Homo sapiens: one gene and its partners. The protein of the gene in region 1 interacts with the protein of each later gene in a pairwise test. Each region holds a gene or a part of one and is shown on either strand. Other genes may lie near its edges.

The links.
Region 2: the proteins of TFRC (region 1) and SLC10A1 interact in binary tests that used the Homo sapiens proteins (3 or more experiments, as listed by UniProt).
Region 3: the proteins of TFRC (region 1) and CREB3L1 interact in binary tests that used the Homo sapiens proteins (3 or more experiments, as listed by UniProt).

The regions. Positions count from the first base shown.
Region 1 is NC_000003.12:196,075,427-196,079,176, reverse strand, and holds part of TFRC (transferrin receptor protein 1), read left to right. Parts: intron 1-2,054; 5' UTR 2,055-2,077; coding exon 2,078-2,113; intron 2,114-3,750. UniProt on the Homo sapiens protein: Cellular uptake of iron occurs via receptor-mediated endocytosis of ligand-occupied transferrin receptor into specialized endosomes. Endosomal acidification leads to iron release.
Region 2 is NC_000014.9:69,783,601-69,787,350, reverse strand, and holds part of SLC10A1 (hepatic sodium/bile acid cotransporter), read left to right. Parts: intron 1-1,043; coding exon 1,044-1,254; intron 1,255-3,750. UniProt on the Homo sapiens protein: As a major transporter of conjugated bile salts from plasma into the hepatocyte, it plays a key role in the enterohepatic circulation of bile salts necessary for the solubilization and absorption of dietary fat and fat-soluble vitamins.
Region 3 is NC_000011.10:46,308,601-46,312,350, forward strand, and holds part of CREB3L1 (cyclic AMP-responsive element-binding protein 3-like protein 1), read left to right. Parts: intron 1-1,388; coding exon 1,389-1,467; intron 1,468-2,431; coding exon 2,432-2,589; intron 2,590-3,724; coding exon 3,725-3,750.

The DNA of each region.
Region 1 (3,750 bases):
TGGGTCCTTACTGTTCTGGTGGAGTGGTAGTGATAAGCTTTTTGTAACAGAAGGGGCAAAAGATTGTGCTTCTGGCTGGGCGCAGTGGCTCACGCCTTCGATTTCCTTGGGATGTTCTTATCAAGTAACTAATCTTAGCACTTTGGGAGGCCAGGTGGGTGGATCACCCTAGGTCAGAAGTTCCAGACCAGCCTGGCCAACGTGGTAAAATCCCGTCTCTACTAAAAATACAAAAATTAGCTGGGCATGGTGGTGGGCACCTGTAATCCCAGCTACTCGGAGTCTGAGGTGGGAAAATGGCTTGAACCCGGGAGGGGGAGGTTGCAGTGAGCCGAGATCCTGCCATTGCACTCCAGCCTAGGCAACAAGACCGAAACTCTGTCTCAAGAAAAAAAAAAAGATTATGCTTCTAAGAATATGGTCTATTGCATATGGACACTGGTTTTTAAAGCTTGAATTTAAAAAGAATTTTTTGTAATAGGTTTTAGAGCTTTTTCTTTTTCTTTTTTATTATTTTTTTGAGATGGAGTTTCACTCCGTCACCCAGGCTGGAGTGCAGTGGTGCCATCTCGGCTCACTGCAACCTCCACCTCCCGGGTTCAAGCGATTCTCCTGCCTCAGCCTCCCCAGTAGCTGGGATTACAGGTGCCCACCACCACGCCCATCTAATTTTTGTATTTTTAGTAGAGATGGGGTTTCACCACCTTGGCCAGGCTGGTCTCAAACTCCTGACCTCGTGATCCACCTGCCTCGGCCTCCCAAAGTGTTGGGATTACAGGCATGAGCCACCGTGCCTGGCCAGAAAGCTTTTTCTTAATGCCAGTTATAATACCCTTTGCTTTACAATTTGCGTATACCTCACAGCTTGCTTTGTGCCGTGTGTGTTTAATATGCCCTAAGTGTACTCGTATATAGGAAAAGCTTTAAAATGGTATCCAATAAATGTCCATTTTGCAAATCTCAGGATAATGTCATTTTCAAGTATCTAGATGCCCTCAAACCAAATTAACTGGAAAATTCAGATTTCAGTTAAGGCCTTTAACTTAACTTAGGACTTTGATTACAGAGATGTATTTTGCTTTGACAAAAGTTAAGGTTAATGTCTTAAATTTCCAGAGATGATAACACAATTTCTATAACCCAGTAACCCATTTAACTTCGCTTAGATTATCAATTTTCAGCCTTGAACAGGCCACTTAGTTTCTCTAATAACTGGCCTCTTCATCTGTAAAACAGCGTAATCTGTGTTTCATGTTTCTTCTTGTGTCAAAGATCGAATCACTTGTAGGAACTATTCATTCAGTCAGGATCAGTATTTCTTCCCCTTCCCATTGGAGATGGTTTGTGGTATTTGTAGCATAACTGGTCTTGTCTGCCTTAGTCTTAATTTTGTCTTTTTGTATGTGTCACTTTCTTTTTTTTTTGAGACAGAGTTTTGCTCTTGTTTTCCAGGCTGGAGTGCAGTGGCGCGATCTTGGCTCACTGCAAGCTCCACCTCCTGGGTTCACGCCATTCTCCTGCCTCAGGCTCCCGAGTGGCTGGGATTACAGGCGCCCACCACCACGTCCGGCTAATTTTTGTATTTTTAGTAGAGACAGGGTTTCTCCATGTTGGCCAGGCTGGTCTTGAACTCCTGACCTCAGGTGATCCACCCATCTCAGCCTCCCAAAGTGCTAGGATTACAGGTGTGAGCCACCCCGCCCAGCAGTATGTGTCACTTTTGTCTACTCAGAACATAGTGGTTCGTACTTATAATTGCAGCACTTTGGGAGGCCAAGGTGGGAGGATTGTTTGAGGCCAGGAGTTCAAGACCAGCCTGGGCAACATAGGGTGACCTTGTCTCTACAAAAAGAAAAAAAAAGAATTATGTATATAACAAACTTTAAAAAGGATCCCACTTAATTTAGTTGTCATGTAAACTATGGTTAAATACCTTTTCTAGAAAAGTGATAATGTATTTTAAAAATTTAATGTATCATTTAGCCTGGTAATAGAAAGCTCACTAATCTGATACAGTAGTATCTTTCTCAATAATTCTCTATTCTGATACCTAGGTTCTTCTGTGTGGCAGTTCAGAATGATGGATCAAGCTAGATCAGCATTCTCTAACTTGGTAAGATATTTTCAGTTGTATTTCTGTGTCTGCAAGAATGTGAAATATACAAGCATGACTTTAACTGAGTAAGCATGAAATAATAACCCCAATCTATTATCAGGTATTCATTTACATTTGAATTGGTAGTCTTGAGGCATAACTGATCTCACAAAGAGTTCAGCCTTCAGTAGGGTTAATTATGGAAAGTCTTGGAAGAATTCTCAGAGTGGTTCTGGGTGTGGTAGACGGGGACAGCTTAGTAGATAAGACGAATTAAAGCCCTGATCAAAATGTTTTAGTAGGAGAAGTAAAAAGCAAAGGCTTGCGGGGCGCTGTGGCTCACGCCTGTAATCCCAGCACTTTGGGAGGCTGAGGTGGGTGGATCACCTGTGGTCAGGAGTTCAAGACCAGCCTGACCAACATGGTGAAACTCGGTCTCTACTAAAAATACAAAAAAAAAAAAAATTAGCTGAGTGTCATGGCGCATGCCTGTAGTCCCAGCTACTTGGGAGGCTGAGGCAGGAGAATTGCTTGAACCCGGGAGGCGGAGGTTGCAATGAGCTGAGATCACGCCATTGCACTCCAGCCTGGGCAACAGAGTGAGACTCCGTCTCAAAAAAAAAAAAAAAAGCAAAGGCTGAATGAGGCCAAGTGTGGTGGCTCACTCCCGCAATCCCAGCAGTTTGGGAGGTGAGGCAGGAGGATCACTTGAGGAGTTTGAGACTTGCCTGGGCAACATAGCAAGCCCATCTCTATTAAAAAAAAAATGAAATTTTAAGAAACATTGAGTAGACAGTATGAGTGAAAGCTGAAAGAACATACAAAAAAAACAGCCATCCAGGCCATGACGAGAAGGAGCCTAACTCTTAACACTCTGTCTAGACCTCAATTCTCTCTTATTTGTATTTATTTATTTATTTATTTTTATTTTATTTTTTGAGATGGAGTCTCAGCCTGGGCTCTGTTGCCCAGGTTGGAATGCAGTGTGCAATCTTAGCTCACTGTAACCTCCGCCTCCTGAGTTCAAGCGATTCTCCTGCCTCAGCCTCCTGGGTGGCTGAGATTACAGGCGTGCGACACCATGCCCAGCTAGTGGTTTTTTTTTTTTTGAATTTTTAGTGAGAGGGGATTTCACCATGTTGGTCAGGCTTGTCTCAAACTTCTGACCATAAATGATCTGTGTGCCTCGGCCCCCCCCAGAGTGCTGGGATTACAGGCATGAGCCACTGTGTCTGGTCTATTCTCTCTTTTCTGTCTTCTATCTTATGCTTAGTCAGAATTTCTGCTTATTTATAACTTTGTTTTATTCTTGCTCCCTTGCTCCCACCAACATCATGGTCTGGGTTACTGCATAGTATCCTGAACTGATTTGTGCCCCTAGTCCCAGCTACTCAGGAGGCTGAGGTGGGGGAATCAGTAGAGCCCAGGATTTTGAGGCTGCAGTGAGCTGTGATCACACCACTGTACTCCATCCTGGGAGAGAGAGGGAGACCTTGTCTCAAAAAAAAAAAAAAATTTACAAAAAGGGAGAGACTGACTGAGAAGACCAGTGTGAACTAGCCCTTGACTGGGCCCAGGGAAGAATGTTGGTTTGAAAGGAGAACACCCTAAGGAATATATAGCAAGTTATAGTAATGGCCCAATAACAAGCATAT
Region 2 (3,750 bases), on another chromosome or scaffold:
CCCTATCAGCTTCCTTCTCAGTTGACCTTTCTGGAGGGCCTCTCCCTAGACAGGGTCCTGGGACTAACATATATAAGATTCCAAATGGAAAAGGAAATTGGACAAGTAGGATACATATTAGAGCTGGAAGGACATATTATTCAGGCTCTGAGTGTCATAATTTATTTTAAATAATATCAAGAGGAACCAGAAAGTAAAGAACATGAGAACACCAGAGTTGGGGACTGGAATACTATCCAAGATGCAAAGCAAATCTGACCAGGTTATCTTGTCACTTACTCAACATGGGTATCTATTACTGCCTTCTCTACTACCCCACCATTATGGCCCTTCAATTATTCTGTTTCTTACTGCTTCACTATTTCTTTTACAGTCCTTTTAATCATGGTATCTGTTTATTGATTTTTCTAGTAGGGTTTTTGACTTCTGCCTGAGCATCACTCCCATGCCACCCATCCCCAAAGACCAAGTGTCCTGTCACTGTGTCTCACACTCAGACTCCCCACGAGGTAAAATGTGCTGATATAGCTAATTGTTATTGTCTCCGTTGGACAAAGTCACTACAAGAAGCCATTCCCTAGGCTCTAAACCAGACATTTAGTAACTGTGGGTCAGGTGCCATTCCATGGTCCAATGGGCTAATGACCAGAGTAATGGAATCACACAGTTGGCTTTCTACAAAATGGGCTTGGCATGGGGGAGGTGCTCAATGCGAAAAGGGTTCCATTACAGAGAAGGAGATCAGAATGGCTCCTTCCACAATGAAGCACACAGGGATTGAAGCAGTTGAACCACCCTAAGTTCAAATGCTGCCTTGGCCACTTACTACCTTGTGCGACTTTGAGCAGGACACAACTCTTCTAGTCCCCAGCTTCCTTGTCAGCGAAAAGAAGATAGTATGCTTACTGCCTAATGTTATGGGGAAAAGGAACTGAAGCCACATATGTCAAGCACTTAGCACAGTGGCACTTAGCAGGCACTCAACAAAATAGTCTGTATTTATGGGCTCTCTCTCTCTCCCCTCTTCCCATGTCTCCCACCAGCATTGTGATGACCACCTGCTCCACCTTCTGTGCCCTTGGCATGATGCCTCTCCTCCTGTACATCTACTCCAGGGGGATCTATGATGGGGACCTGAAGGACAAGGTGCCCTATAAAGGCATCGTGATATCACTGGTCCTGGTTCTCATTCCTTGCACCATAGGGATCGTCCTCAAATCCAAACGGCCACAATACATGCGCTATGTCATCAAGGTAAGAACCTGGGAGGCTTGACAAATTAGGGCAAAAGAGTAAAAACACCATATACAACTATAAGATATAATCATTATATTAATAATAAACATACATATGCTCCTACTAGATGCTAAGTTTTATGCTATGCACTCTAAGGATTCACTGTCACCAGAGTTTGATATTTGCAGAAAGTGAAGTAACACATGAGGCTGGCGTGGTGGCTCACGCTTATAATCCCAACACTTTGGGAAGTTGAGGCGGGTGGATCACTTGAGGTCAGAAGTTTGAGACCAGCCTGACCAACATGACGAAACCCCGTCTCCATTAAAAATACAAAAAAAAAAAAAAAATTAGCCGGGCATGGTAGCGAGTGCCTGCAATCCCAGCTACTCAGGAGGCTGAGGCAGCAGAATCGCTTGAACCAGGGAGGGCAGGGGTTGCAGTGAGCCGAGATCGCGCCACTGCACTCCCGCCTGGGCCACAGAGCAAGACTCCATCTCTAAAACGAAAAAAAAAAAAAAAAGAAAAGAAAGAAAATGAAGTAACACACGAGAGAAACAAGATCCAATTCCAGTGTACACGCAAGTATTTGCAGAAGGCAAGGAGATGGGAACAGTGAGGGCTGGAGTGGTCAAAGAGCCTTATTAAAAAGGAAGGGCTTGAGGCATTTAGGTAAACCTGGGGAGAAGCCTGAATAGAGTTCAGCAGGCACTAAGGGCAAATTTGGCTGATGTGGCAAGAAGCTAGAGGAGACAGGTAGTGTACCCATTCCCAGCATTTCAAGAGAGGGATGGGGTGGGAAGTGGAGTGAATTAAGGCCACAAAGGTTTTGAGAAGCACTGTGGTCACAGACAGGGCATCATGCCACTGCTTTGTGTGCAGAACTCCTAGAGTGCAGCTATGGTCTCTCCACCAATATTTTCAACCTTGGAGTTTGGTCCCTGCCAGCCTCCCCCTTGGCTCACTATTCATCCCCCAGGGCCAGGAGGTCATCCTGGTCCTCAGGAAGGACTTGACCTCCTGACCTCCTGTACCATCTCTGCCCCTGGATCAATGCCTCTGGCCTGGTCTGCAAGGCGTGCTGCTGAGAACCCCAAAGTTTGGCAGCAGCTTTGGGCCTGGAACAAAGAAGTCAAGAGTCCAGTTTTCAGGGGGGTTTTATTTTCACACTACCATTGTCTCAAGAGTAGTTTTTGCCCTTGTCCTGTCCCAGTGCCATGGCCACAGCTCCCCTTCCCGCCTGCTGGAGGACATGGAGGAATCATCCCTCCTCCTTTCTGTGGCCAGTCACCCCACCTCAGCCCTGGATTGCAATCATTCTCTCTACCCTTGTACTCAAGAGACCTCCTTTTATTGATTATGCCCCTGGCCCAGCAGCCTCCCCTCTCTCTCATTTCTAAAATATCTCTGTATTGGTTCTTCACAATCAGCTTTGATACGAACTCACATATCTTCTATCTTCAAAAAACAAAACAAAAAGTGTCTCTCACTGGGATTTTTTGTGGAATCCACCTCCCATTCCACCTAATATCTCCCTTTGCTCTCCTTCCTAGCCAGGTTTTAGGAGTAGTCCCCCTCACTCCTCTCTCTCTCTGTCAATCGCTTCCTCTCAAACACCTTCCATTTCCCCCATGCCACCGCCAGAGCTCTCTCATGAGTGACCAGGCCCTCAGCAATTCGTTTCCATTATTTGAATCCCTCTCTTCTCTCCTTGGTCTCCCATCCACCCAGCATCTTGATGACCACCTGCTCCACTTTCTTTGCCAAATCCAATGGACATTTCTCAATCCTTCCTTGACCTTCTAGCAGCATTGGACATAATTGACCACTGCCTCCTCAAAAGCCTTCTCTGTCAGCTTTAGTGACTCTAAGCTCTGCTGCTTTCCTCCTACCTCTCATGACCTTCAGACTCCCTTATGAGTTCCTCTGGTCAAAGGCACTTCTCTGCATTCAGACCAAGCTTTCTGCCTTTCTCACCAGACCTCTCCCAGCACAGGATCTGGTCCCTCTCAGGTCTGCAATTACCATCTGCAAACCGAGACTTCCAGAACAGCATCATCAGATGTCAACTCTATCCTCACTCCAGAATCCATTTATTATCTACCAGGTCTTTCTATCTGAATATACCTCAGACATTTAAAACTCAATATATGTTAAAGTCATCTCCTCCCCATGTGGTTATCTCAGTCGGTGGCACTGTGTGTGTGCCCAGTTGCCCCAACCAGAAACTGGAAGTCATTCTCAATGTTCCCTTCTCCCTCACCACTCACACCCATCTAATCAATGACTGTCGATTCCACCTTCTGTTGCTGGAATCCATTCATTCCTCTCTATCCTTACCTCTCACTAGACAACTCAAATGGCCTTCTCATCCAACCTCCTCACCCAGTTCTAACCTGAGGGTGAAGATGTGAAGTACAAACTCTATCATGTCACTCCACTGCTTAAAGCCTCTCATTGACTCCTTCCCCCTAGGATAGTTTAAACTCCTTAATGTGGCACTTCTTGATTTGG
Region 3 (3,750 bases), on another chromosome or scaffold:
ATGTTGCACATCCTCCTTCTCTGTAAAAGGGGCTCATGAACCCCCTAAGGTGCTTCTAGCCCTGGGATTCCACAGGATGAGCAGCATCTTAAAATCCCTAGATGGGAGCGTGGCTGGCCCTGCCCCCTGCTGGCCACACGGCTCACTTGCTCTAACTGTACGTGGCTGAAGGCAAGAAAGGTCAGCCCCTCCCTGCCCCACCACAGACCCGTGGGATCAAGGGTCGGCGGCAAATATGCAGGATCTTTTGAGACCATCTCCAAGACTGGCTCTGAGACTCCTCAGGCCTTGCCAAAGCAGGAAGGGATGGAGTGACAGCAGCAGCAGCCAGGGAAGAGGAGACTTCAGAAAGGGAAACTGAGGCTCAAGGGGTTAAGTAATTTGCCCAAAATCATGCAGTTAGAAGCAACTGACATGCCTTCCAAATTCGGCCTGCCAGACCCTGAAGCCCACGCGAGTGAGGTCATAACCCCTAGTGGAAGGCACAGGAGCTGGCATTGTCAACAGTGAGCTCTCTGCACCGCAGTCCCCTCTCTGTCACTTGAGGGCTGAGCTGGGATGTAGACCAAGGAATCTCCAAGGTCCCTGCCAACTTGAACCTTCTGGGATTCTTACTCATCAGCCTACATTCTGGATTCTGCGTCCCACCCACAATATCATGATCTCTCTGGGGCTGCAGCCCAGGGCCTGCAATCCAGCCCCCAACAACGCCTTCCTCAGACAGAGCACCACTTACTTGCATGTTGGTAGTCATGTGTACAAAGCCATGCATGCTCTTGAAGTCCTTTCTGGAACAACAAGTCAGAATAGAAATAAAGAGAAATGCATGTTTGTTAAAAATGTCCATCTGATTCTATCAAGCCCTTACTTCAACCCATTAGGAGCTCTCATTGCCTCCAACTTCTTTGTCTAGATTCTACTTCTATTTATACCCCGGGACTCATTTCAGACTTTGACTTCTCAGGGAGCATCCTCGGAGCCCCCAGCCAATTAATGCCTCCTTCTGTACTACTGCTACCAGCCATTGAACAGCTACACTGTTCCAGACATTACCTCTTGTTTTATTCTCATGGCAACCCACATACCAAAGCCTGTGTGGCCTTCACAGTTGGTGTGGAAGGTGGCCCCACACTCAGAGGCTCACCTTCTCTGAGCTTAAGGTCTGAGCTACACTGCTTGGCCAGCAATCCTTTCTCTTAGGTGTGACTTGGCTTCTTTAAGCTCAAGAGCTTGCCTCTGTTCCCTTGCAGCTGTGCCCAGAACTCCAAGCCCAGCCACTTCCCCAACTGTGCAGGGCAGGCAACCAGCTTTAGGGAGGAGGTGGGTAGATGGCATGGTGGGGACAGACCCAGGGGCAGCTAATGGAGCTGGGCTTGTCTGTTCCTCAGGCCCCGGGAGAGATGACTCAGCTGCCAGTGATCAAAGCAGAGCCTCTGGAGGTGAACCAGTTCCTCAAAGTGACACCGGGTAGGTGTGTCCAGGGGAAGGGCTCTTTTCCCCTCCAGTCATAGGCAGATAGCATCCCCACTTCCTTGGTTCAGCCCATCCCTATCTCTTGACAACCTTCCCCCACCCAGAATATCCTCTCCACCCTGCCCTACCCACTGTCCCTCCATCCATGCCCACTCTTCGTCTAGTCCTCTTCGTTTTTGTTTTTTGTTTGTTTGTTTGTTTGTTTGTTTTTTGAGATGGAGTCTCACTCTGTCACCCAGGCTGGAGTACCATGGCACGATCTCAGCTCACTGCAACCTCCCCATCCCAGGTTCAAGCAATTCTCCTGTCTCAGCCTCCTAAGTACCTGGGATTACAGGTGCCCACCACCACGCCTGGCTAATTTTTGTATTTTTTAGTAGAGACGGGGTTTGGCCATATTGGTCAGGCTGGTCTTGAACTCCTGACTCAGGGGATCCACCTGTCTCAGCCTCCCAAAGTGCTGTGATTACAGGGGTGAGCCACTGCACCCAGCCTTCGTCCAGTCCTCTTCTTGCCCAATCTACTGCTGCCATCGCTCCTGCTTGCCCAGCCTGACCCTATGAGAGAGAGGCCCCAGTCACCTTCTGGGGTTGCTGAGCTAGAGCTTAGTGATCTTCTGGAGTTGCTGAGCTTAAGGCCCTGAACCCTGTGAAGTCAGAGGTCACAGAGGACCTCCCACGAATTCAGCTCCTATGATGTCTATGCCAAGGGCGAGCTTGTAAAGGAGCTGGGCCTCTGTGGTGTCAGATGAGGCAGCACCCAGGAATTGGCTACCCAGATGTCAACTGTCTTTCTGACCCTGCAGAGGGGCTTCTGATGTCATAGCTGAGACCAAGCGCCTGGCAGTCCGTGTCCCACAATGTCAGGGCTGGTGCAAGCTCATGCTCAGCTGAACTCATGATGTCCAAGTGGAGCTGATGTGCAACGTTGCTAACTCGGTTTCCCCTGCTCTCCCCAGAGGACCTGGTGCAGATGCCTCCGACGCCCCCCAGCAGCCATGGCAGTGACAGCGACGGCTCCCAGAGTCCCCGCTCTCTGCCCCCCTCCAGCCCTGTCAGGCCCATGGCGCGCTCCTCCACGGCCATCTCCACCTCCCCACTCCTCACTGCCCCTCACGTAAGGAGCTGGGGGTGGGCTGATCCCAGAAATGAGGAATTGAATACATCCACCTGAGCACACTGGCCAGTCAGGAGGGTTTGGGGAGCCCCGAGACTGATCCCCACCCTCATCAGAATTCAGAGGGATGCTTACCTGGCAGATGGGAGTTCTAATCCTTTTATTTTTGAGTCTTGCTCTGTTGCCCAGGCTGGAGTGCAGTGGCTCAATCTCGGCTCACTGAAACATCTGCCTCCCAGGTTCAAGCAATTCTCCTGTCTCAGCCTCCCAAGTAGCTGGAATTACAGGCACTTGCCACCGTGTCTGGCTTTTTTTTGTTTGTTTTTTTTTTTTGAGATGGAGTCTCGCTCTGTCGCCTGGAGTGCAGTGGCACGATCTCGGCTCACTGCAACCTCCACCTCCAGGGTTCAAGTGATTCTCCTGCCTCAGCCTCCCGAGTAGCTGGTATTACAGGTGCACACCACCACCCAGCTAATTTATGTACTTTTAGTAGAGACAGCATTTCACCATGTTGGCCAAGCTGGTCTCAATCTCTTGACCTCTTGATCTGCCCACTTCAGCCTCCCAAAGGGCTGGGATTACAGGCGTGAGCCACCGCATCTGGTCAGGAATTCAAATCCTTTCGCCCTGCCTCATGGTGAACAGGAGACTATTGCAGAGCCAGGACTAGAACTTGACATTCCTGACCTCCAGGGGATGACCCAGGCTGCCTCCAAGGAGCGCTGTGTGAGGGGAAGTGCCCAGATGGTCCAGAATCCCCAGGAAACATGGAGCTAGGCCCTGAGCCCTGGGATGGGTGTGGAGTCTCCCAAGCCAAGATTGTAGGGAGGGGTCTGAGGGAGATGCTGTTTGGGGCACCCTGGACAAGTAAGCTTTGAGGGTGCAGTCTCAGGGATGGGATCCAGGAAGCCCTCCCGAACAATGCACTAAGAGCCTAACACCTGAGCTCTCAGCATGGCCCTGGCACCTGACACATGTTACTGAATTTCACCCAGATCCACTCCCTTTCCAGATGAGGAAACTGAGGCATAGAGCATTGTGTGCCTTGCCCAGGTCATATAGATAGCACATGGCAGAGCTTGAATTTGAACCCAGGGCTGCCTGGCTCCTAACTACCACATCATACTTCCTACAGAAATTACAGGGGACATCAGGGCCACT